Linked DNA regions of Homo sapiens. The protein of the gene in region 1 interacts with the protein of each later gene in a biochemical or structural test. Each region holds a gene or a part of one and is shown in the gene's direction. Other genes may lie near its edges.

Region 1 (3,412 bases):
GGGAATGAAAACTCAAATCCATTATTTCCTCTCTTTTTAAGCAAGAATTAGTGATACTTTGACTCAGATTTTTTTAAGCTGCTTTCTTTCCTGGGCTGTGTGCTTGGAGCTATCTTTTCTTTCCTAATAGCACACCACTGATAATTTTTGGGTTAAAGCTTGTTCTTCTGGGTGTCAAAACATGTTTCAAATTGAACAGCATTTTCCACCCAGTTGCTTTGATTCTTGACAAGAGACCCCTGGAAGGGCCGTGGGTTTCCCAGCAAATTACATTGGTTATTGGGTTGTAGTTGCTGGAGAGATTTACAAGCCTTTTAAATAGGTAAGATAGTGCTTGGTGCCTGGTGTGCCCTTTTAGAAGAGCTAAGCTTGTGCATGTTTTGTCCCCACTTCTTGTATAAAGTTATTTCCTTGGAAAAATGAAGGGGGAAAACAAAGCTTATATTTGTTTTGTCAGTATGACTTGGGTTTTGGCCACAAAGTTCTTGGAAACCACTTCTCTCTTAAGAGTTTCCATCAGTTAGTTGTGATCTTGACACTGTAAGTATGCCTTTTGTTGCTATGTTCGTTGTAGGGACTGCTGTATTGACTATGGGCTTGTTTTCTCCAGATTTACTCCAACTTAGCAAACTGCAGCCCCAACCGACAGAAGCCCGTGGTAGACCATTCTGTGCGGATCAATTCTGTCGGCAGCACCGCTTCCTCCTCCCAGCCTCTGCTTGTGCACGACGATGTCTGAGCAGAATCAGTGTTTGGGTCACCCCTCCAGGAATGATCTCTTCTTTTGGCTTCCATGATGGTTATTTTCTTTTCTTTCAACTTGCATCCAACTCCAGGATAGTGGGCACCCCACTGCAATCCTGTCTTTCTGAGCACACTTTAGTGGCCGATGATTTTTGTCATCAGCCACCATCCTATTGCAAAGGTTCCAACTGTATATATTCCCAATAGCAACGTAGCTTCTACCATGAACAGAAAACATTCTGATTTGGAAAAAGAGAGGGAGGTATGGACTGGGGGCCAGAGTCCTTTCCAAGGCTTCTCCAATTCTGCCCAAAAATATGGTTGATAGTTTACCTGAATAAATGGTAGTAATCACAGTTGGCCTTCAGAACCATCCATAGTAGTATGATGATACAAGATTAGAAGCTGAAAACCTAAGTCCTTTATGTGGAAAACAGAACATCATTAGAACAAAGGACAGAGTATGAACACCTGGGCTTAAGAAATCTAGTATTTCATGCTGGGAATGAGACATAGGCCATGAAAAAAATGATCCCCAAGTGTGAACAAAAGATGCTCTTCTGTGGACCACTGCATGAGCTTTTATACTACCGACCTGGTTTTTAAATAGAGTTTGCTATTAGAGCATTGAATTGGAGAGAAGGCCTCCCTAGCCAGCACTTGTATATACGCATCTATAAATTGTCCGTGTTCATACATTTGAGGGGAAAACACCATAAGGTTTCGTTTCTGTATACAACCCTGGCATTATGTCCACTGTGTATAGAAGTAGATTAAGAGCCATATAAGTTTGAAGGAAACAGTTAATACCATTTTTTAAGGAAACAATATAACCACAAAGCACAGTTTGAACAAAATCTCCTCTTTTAGCTGATGAACTTATTCTGTAGATTCTGTGGAACAAGCCTATCAGCTTCAGAATGGCATTGTACTCAATGGATTTGATGCTGTTTGACAAAGTTACTGATTCACTGCATGGCTCCCACAGGAGTGGGAAAACACTGCCATCTTAGTTTGGATTCTTATGTAGCAGGAAATAAAGTATAGGTTTAGCCTCCTTCGCAGGCATGTCCTGGACACCGGGCCAGTATCTATATATGTGTATGTACGTTTGTATGTGTGTAGACAAATATTTGGAGGGGTATTTTTGCCCTGAGTCCAAGAGGGTCCTTTAGTACCTGAAAAGTAACTTGGCTTTCATTATTAGTACTGCTCTTGTTTCTTTTCACATAGCTGTCTAGAGTAGCTTACCAGAAGCTTCCATAGTGGTGCAGAGGAAGTGGAAGGCATCAGTCCCTATGTATTTGCAGTTCACCTGCACTTAAGGCACTCTGTTATTTAGACTCATCTTACTGTACCTGTTCCTTAGACCTTCCATAATGCTACTGTCTCACTGAAACATTTAAATTTTACCCTTTAGACTGTAGCCTGGATATTATTCTTGTAGTTTACCTCTTTAAAAACAAAACAAAACAAAACAAAAAACTCCCCTTCCTCACTGCCCAATATAAAAGGCAAATGTGTACATGGCAGAGTTTGTGTGTTGTCTTGAAAGATTCAGGTATGTTGCCTTTATGGTTTCCCCCTTCTACATTTCTTAGACTACATTTAGAGAACTGTGGCCGTTATCTGGAAGTAACCATTTGCACTGGAGTTCTATGCTCTCGCACCTTTCCAAAGTTAACAGATTTTGGGGTTGTGTTGTCACCCAAGAGATTGTTGTTTGCCATACTTTGTCTGAAAAATTCCTTTGTGTTTCTATTGACTTCAATGATAGTAAGAAAAGTGGTTGTTAGTTATAGATGTCTAGGTACTTCAGGGGCACTTCATTGAGAGTTTTGTCTTGGATATTCTTGAAAGTTTATATTTTTATAATTTTTTCTTACATCAGATGTTTCTTTGCAGTGGCTTAATGTTTGAAATTATTTTGTGGCTTTTTTTGTAAATATTGAAATGTAGCAATAATGTCTTTTGAATATTCCCAAGCCCATGAGTCCTTGAAAATATTTTTTATATATACAGTAACTTTATGTGTAAATACATAAGCGGCGTAAGTTTAAAGGATGTTGGTGTTCCACGTGTTTTATTCCTGTATGTTGTCCAATTGTTGACAGTTCTGAAGAATTCTAATAAAATGTACATATATAAATCAAGTGGAGTCATTTGATTGTTGAGATTCGTTGAGATTAAACTTTAAAGCATTAAAGTGCAATCATCCTGACAAAGTTTTGTACGCAGTTTTCATAAAATATGTGCAGGGCTATCAGATCACGCTAGGATTTACATGCTTCGAGATTCAACAGATATTAAGAATTTTCATACGTGTGATATTTTCTCATTTTAGTCTTACAACCTGAGGTCTCTATTTAAATTGAAAAATAGATACAGAGAAGGTGCTTAGTATGTATGAGCTGGGTGCTGTCATGTGGGTGAAACATTATGCATGCCCAATTGGTACCGTCCAGACCACTGGAACCCAAACAGAGGCTGAGAGTTCTTCAGCTTGAAACAAAAGGAAGCACCCTGAATCACATAATCTTATTAAGAATGAGGCACCCACACACCCTCAGTCATGACTGTCTTTATTGACGTGACATCTACACCTGCAGAAATGTCTCCTGAAAGGAAAGGGAAGGGGTGAAAAGTGACCTGTAATGAAAAGGAATCC
Region 2 (3,653 bases), on another chromosome or scaffold:
AGCCTGGGTCGGCCAGAGAGTTCAGGCCACCCCGGCCGGACGCCTGCCACTTGCTGTCACTGTGCCGCTGTCATGGCACGCTCCGGGAGTGCCACGCCACCTGCCCGGGCTCCGGGAGCCCCTCCACGGAGCCCACCCCAGAGGCTGGTACAGGTCAGGTGGGGTGGGAGGAAGGGAGGGCTAGGAGGAACCGGCAGCCGCTCAGCCTCCCGGGGTGGAAGGAGGGGACTCCGGGACCTTGATGTAAGCAGGCTGGTCGCTGAGCAACAATGAAGGCCTTTCTCTGCCAGGGCTGGTGCGTCACCATCTGGGGGGGTGCCCAGGGTACCCCCATGCCAGCCTCTTTGTCCGGACACAGGCATGGCTGGGGGACCAGGGATGGTCCAGCTCTGTGCTGGCCGCCGGCAGGGAGGGAGCCTGGAGCCCGTGGGAGCCCGAGGGCCTGGCGGGAGGCGGCAGGAAGTGTGTGCTGAGCCAGGGCAGGGAGGAGGAATGTGAGCTATGAACGCCGCCCGAGCTCCTCGGCTCTCTGGGCCCCCCTTCCCCACGAGCCCATGTGCTGCCAGCAGCCCACCCTGGCCCCTCCATTGCAGCCCCTCCACCTGAGGTTTTAGTGCTGTGCCTGGCGCCACTGGGACCCTGCTGACAATGAAGGGGTTTAGGTTTGATAGGCAGAACTTCTTGCCTTGTAGAGTGAAAGACGGCTGCTTCTGGACAGAGGCAGAGGGGTGGCCAGAATGACCCTGAGAACACTGAGGGGTCCTTGGCCTGGCCTCAGGGCCCCAGACACCCACCAGATCCTGCTTCCTGTCTGGTGCCCTGAGAAACCCTGCCCCGCAGGCCGCTGTGCAGGCGTGGGAAGGGCTGCCGGGCCAGCACTGTGGGGCTGGCCGCATGTGTGGGCTGCTGTGCGTGTTTGCAGGTGTGTGTGGACGTCTTGTGTCTGTGGCTGTGTGATGTGTCTTTGCGGACTGGGCCCATATCACGCTCCCACCTCCTCCACTGAATTGGGCTCCTGTCCCCACGCCTTCCCTGCGTCCCAGGCCAGCCTGGGGGCCGTGCTCCACCTCCCCTCCCGAACTGGACTCCTGTCCCCACGCCTTCCCTCCGTCCCAGGCCAGCCTGGGGGCCGTGCTCCACCTCCCCTCCCGAACTGGACTCCTGTCCCCACGCCTTCCCTCCGTCCCAGGCCAGCCTGGGGGCCGTGCTCCACCTCCCCTCCCGAACTGGACTCCTGTCCCCACGCCTTCCCTCCGTCCCAGGCCAGCCTGGGGGCCGTGCTCCACCTCCCCTCCCGAACTGGGCTCCTGTCCCCACGCCTTCCCTCCGTCCCAGGCCAGCCTGGGGGCCGTGCTCCACCTCCCCTCCCGAACTGGACTCCTGTCCCCACGCCTTCCCTCCGTCCCAGGCCAGCCTGGGGGCCGTGCTCCACCTCCCCTCCCGAACTGGGCTCCTGTCCCCACGCCTTCCCTCCGTCCCAGGCCAGCCTGGGGGCTGTGCTCCACTTCCCCTCCCGAACTGGACTCCTGTCCCCACGCCTTCCCTGCGTCCCAGGCCAGCCTGGGGGCCGTGCTGTGACTGCATCCCTGAGGGGCACTTTGGTGGGCAGGTGTCAGGGTCAGCCTTGAAGCCCCACGCCTGTGCCACCAGGTGTGTCTGGGGGAGGAGTGAGTCTATGTGGTGGGGCCCTGGAGATTTTGGGGGTCTTGCACCCTCTAATTCAGCCCATGTGGCCCAGCTGAGCCCCTGTGGGGCCAGGGAGCCACAGGCTTGTCCCTGGAGTTTCTGGTGTGACGGGCTGGGTGGTGGCCATGCAGAGAGGGTTCAGAGGGTGGGCAGGAGGCTTCAGATGAGGCATCTGGCAGGCTGGACAGGAGAAGGGTGTTCCAGACCAAGGGCAGGTCCTGAGCCCAGGGGACAGAGCACTAGCTGTGTGGAGAAGGACCCCCTTGCTCCCTTGGCGGGGCGGTCCCCCCCGCTGACATGGCCGTTTCTGGTCCATTGGGGTTTGGAGCGAGCTTGAAGGTGGGTGGCTGGAGGGGTTGGGGGTGTCTGAGGCCTGGAGACCTGCCCTCCTGAGGTCTGAGCGCCCCCTTGCCATGCCGCCCCAGCCCTGGCCTGGCCTGGCCTGTGGTCCCTCAGGGACACACAGGGAGGTAGGAGGTGAGGGAAGGGCCCTGGCAGCCCCCAGCCCGCCTGCACAGTCTCCCCTGCGCACGCCCTCAAGCTTGGCGCTCCCTGGAAACCTGAGCTGCCTCCTGCCTGCTCCGGCCACCGCCATGTTTAACTGAGCACGGGCAGCCGCTGGCCACCGCCGCCGCACCCTGGCCCACCCCCTGGCTGGGAGGTGGTCATTGGGCCTGGCCTTGCCTGCATGGTCCCCTGGCCCAGAGCCCTACCGCAGGATGCCAGAGGTAACATGGGGCAGGGCCTGGGATGGTAGCGGGGGGTCCTTCCGGGCACCAGGAGGCCCTCTGTGCCCTGTCCACACTAAGCTCCTGCCCCAGCCCCTGCTTGCTGGGCCCACGGGGGTGGGGCGGCTCATTTTCCTGGAATGTGAAAGCAAACAGAGCCGCCACCGCAGCCAGCCCCACGGAGGCCTCTGGAGAGAAAACAAAACTGCTGGCCTAGGAGCGCCTGCCCCACGCTCTGGAGGAGAGCCCGGGGCAGGGGGACGCACAGGCAGAGCCCTCAGGGACAACCGCCCCAGGAGGCCAACGGCGACAGTTCATCCCACCTGGTGCTTCCTCCCACCCTGCCTGTGCGCCACGCTGGCCTCGAGCCAAAGGAATTCTCCCAGCAACCCGGGAAGGCGGCTGGGCCCGTCGGGGAGGCTTCTGGGTTTGAAAACAGGCTTTGCCCAAGTTCCCACAGCTAAAGCTCTGTCACAGGCAGCCTGGGTGCCCGGAGTGTTTGCCACTGAGACCTGGGCCTGCCCGTGGGGGGCACGGTACCGAGTTTGGGCAGTGGCGGCACCACCGGGGAGTGGCCTCTGGAGGCGGGAGGCTGGAGCAAGAGACTGACCCTGTCCGTTGGGCCTGCAGGATGTCAGTGGGCCCCTGAGGGAGCTGCGCCCTCGGCTCTGCCACCTGCGAAAGGGACCTCAGGGCTATGGGTTCAACCTGCATAGTGACAAGTCCCGGCCCGGCCAGTACATCCGCTCTGTGGACCCGGGCTCACCTGCCGCCCGCTCTGGCCTCCGCGCCCAGGACCGGCTCATTGAGGTACCGGCCCACCAGGGCTGCGGGGTGCCGAGTGCCCCGCACCTGTCCACACTGGGGCCCTGGGTCCTTGCAGGGAGGAGGGAGACGCTGGGAACCTGAGCTGGTGCGCCTCCTGCTGCCTCGGTGGGCGGTGGCTGTGATGAATATTTGATGCCACACCTGGCCACGCGGCGTTGGGGGCTGTCTGGGCCCATGGCGGGGCTGATACATGCTGGTGGCGGCAGGTGAACGGGCAGAATGTGGAGGGACTGCGCCATGCTGAGGTGGTGGCCAGCATCAAGGCACGGGAGGACGAGGCCCGGCTGCTGGTCGTGGACCCCGAGACAGATGAACACTTCAAGCGGCTTCGGGTCACACCCACCGAGGAGCACGTGGAAGGTGGGCCACGGCCCAGGGCACAGGGTGGGTGCGGTGTGGTGGCTGAGCAGC

What was found. Proteins that work in one complex are often made in the same cells at the same time.
Region 2: the proteins of KIT (region 1) and NHERF2 interact in a test that uses a peptide from one of them, tested with the Homo sapiens proteins (one large-scale study listed by IntAct).

What each region holds. Positions count from the first base shown.
Region 1 is NC_000004.12:54,737,819-54,741,230, forward strand, and holds the end of KIT (mast/stem cell growth factor receptor Kit isoform 1 precursor), read left to right. Parts: intron 1-610; coding exon 611-739; 3' UTR 740-2,897; downstream 2,898-3,412. UniProt on the Homo sapiens protein: Tyrosine-protein kinase that acts as a cell-surface receptor for the cytokine KITLG/SCF and plays an essential role in the regulation of cell survival and proliferation, hematopoiesis, stem cell maintenance, gametogenesis, mast cell development, migration and function, and in melanogenesis.
Region 2 is NC_000016.10:2,033,280-2,036,932, forward strand, and holds part of NHERF2 (Na(+)/H(+) exchange regulatory cofactor NHE-RF2), read left to right. Parts: intron 1-14; exon of another isoform or gene 15-72; coding exon of another isoform or gene 73-153; intron 154-309; exon of another isoform or gene 310-2,405; coding exon of another isoform or gene 2,406-2,414; intron 2,415-3,044; coding exon 3,045-3,224; intron 3,225-3,448; coding exon 3,449-3,602; intron 3,603-3,653.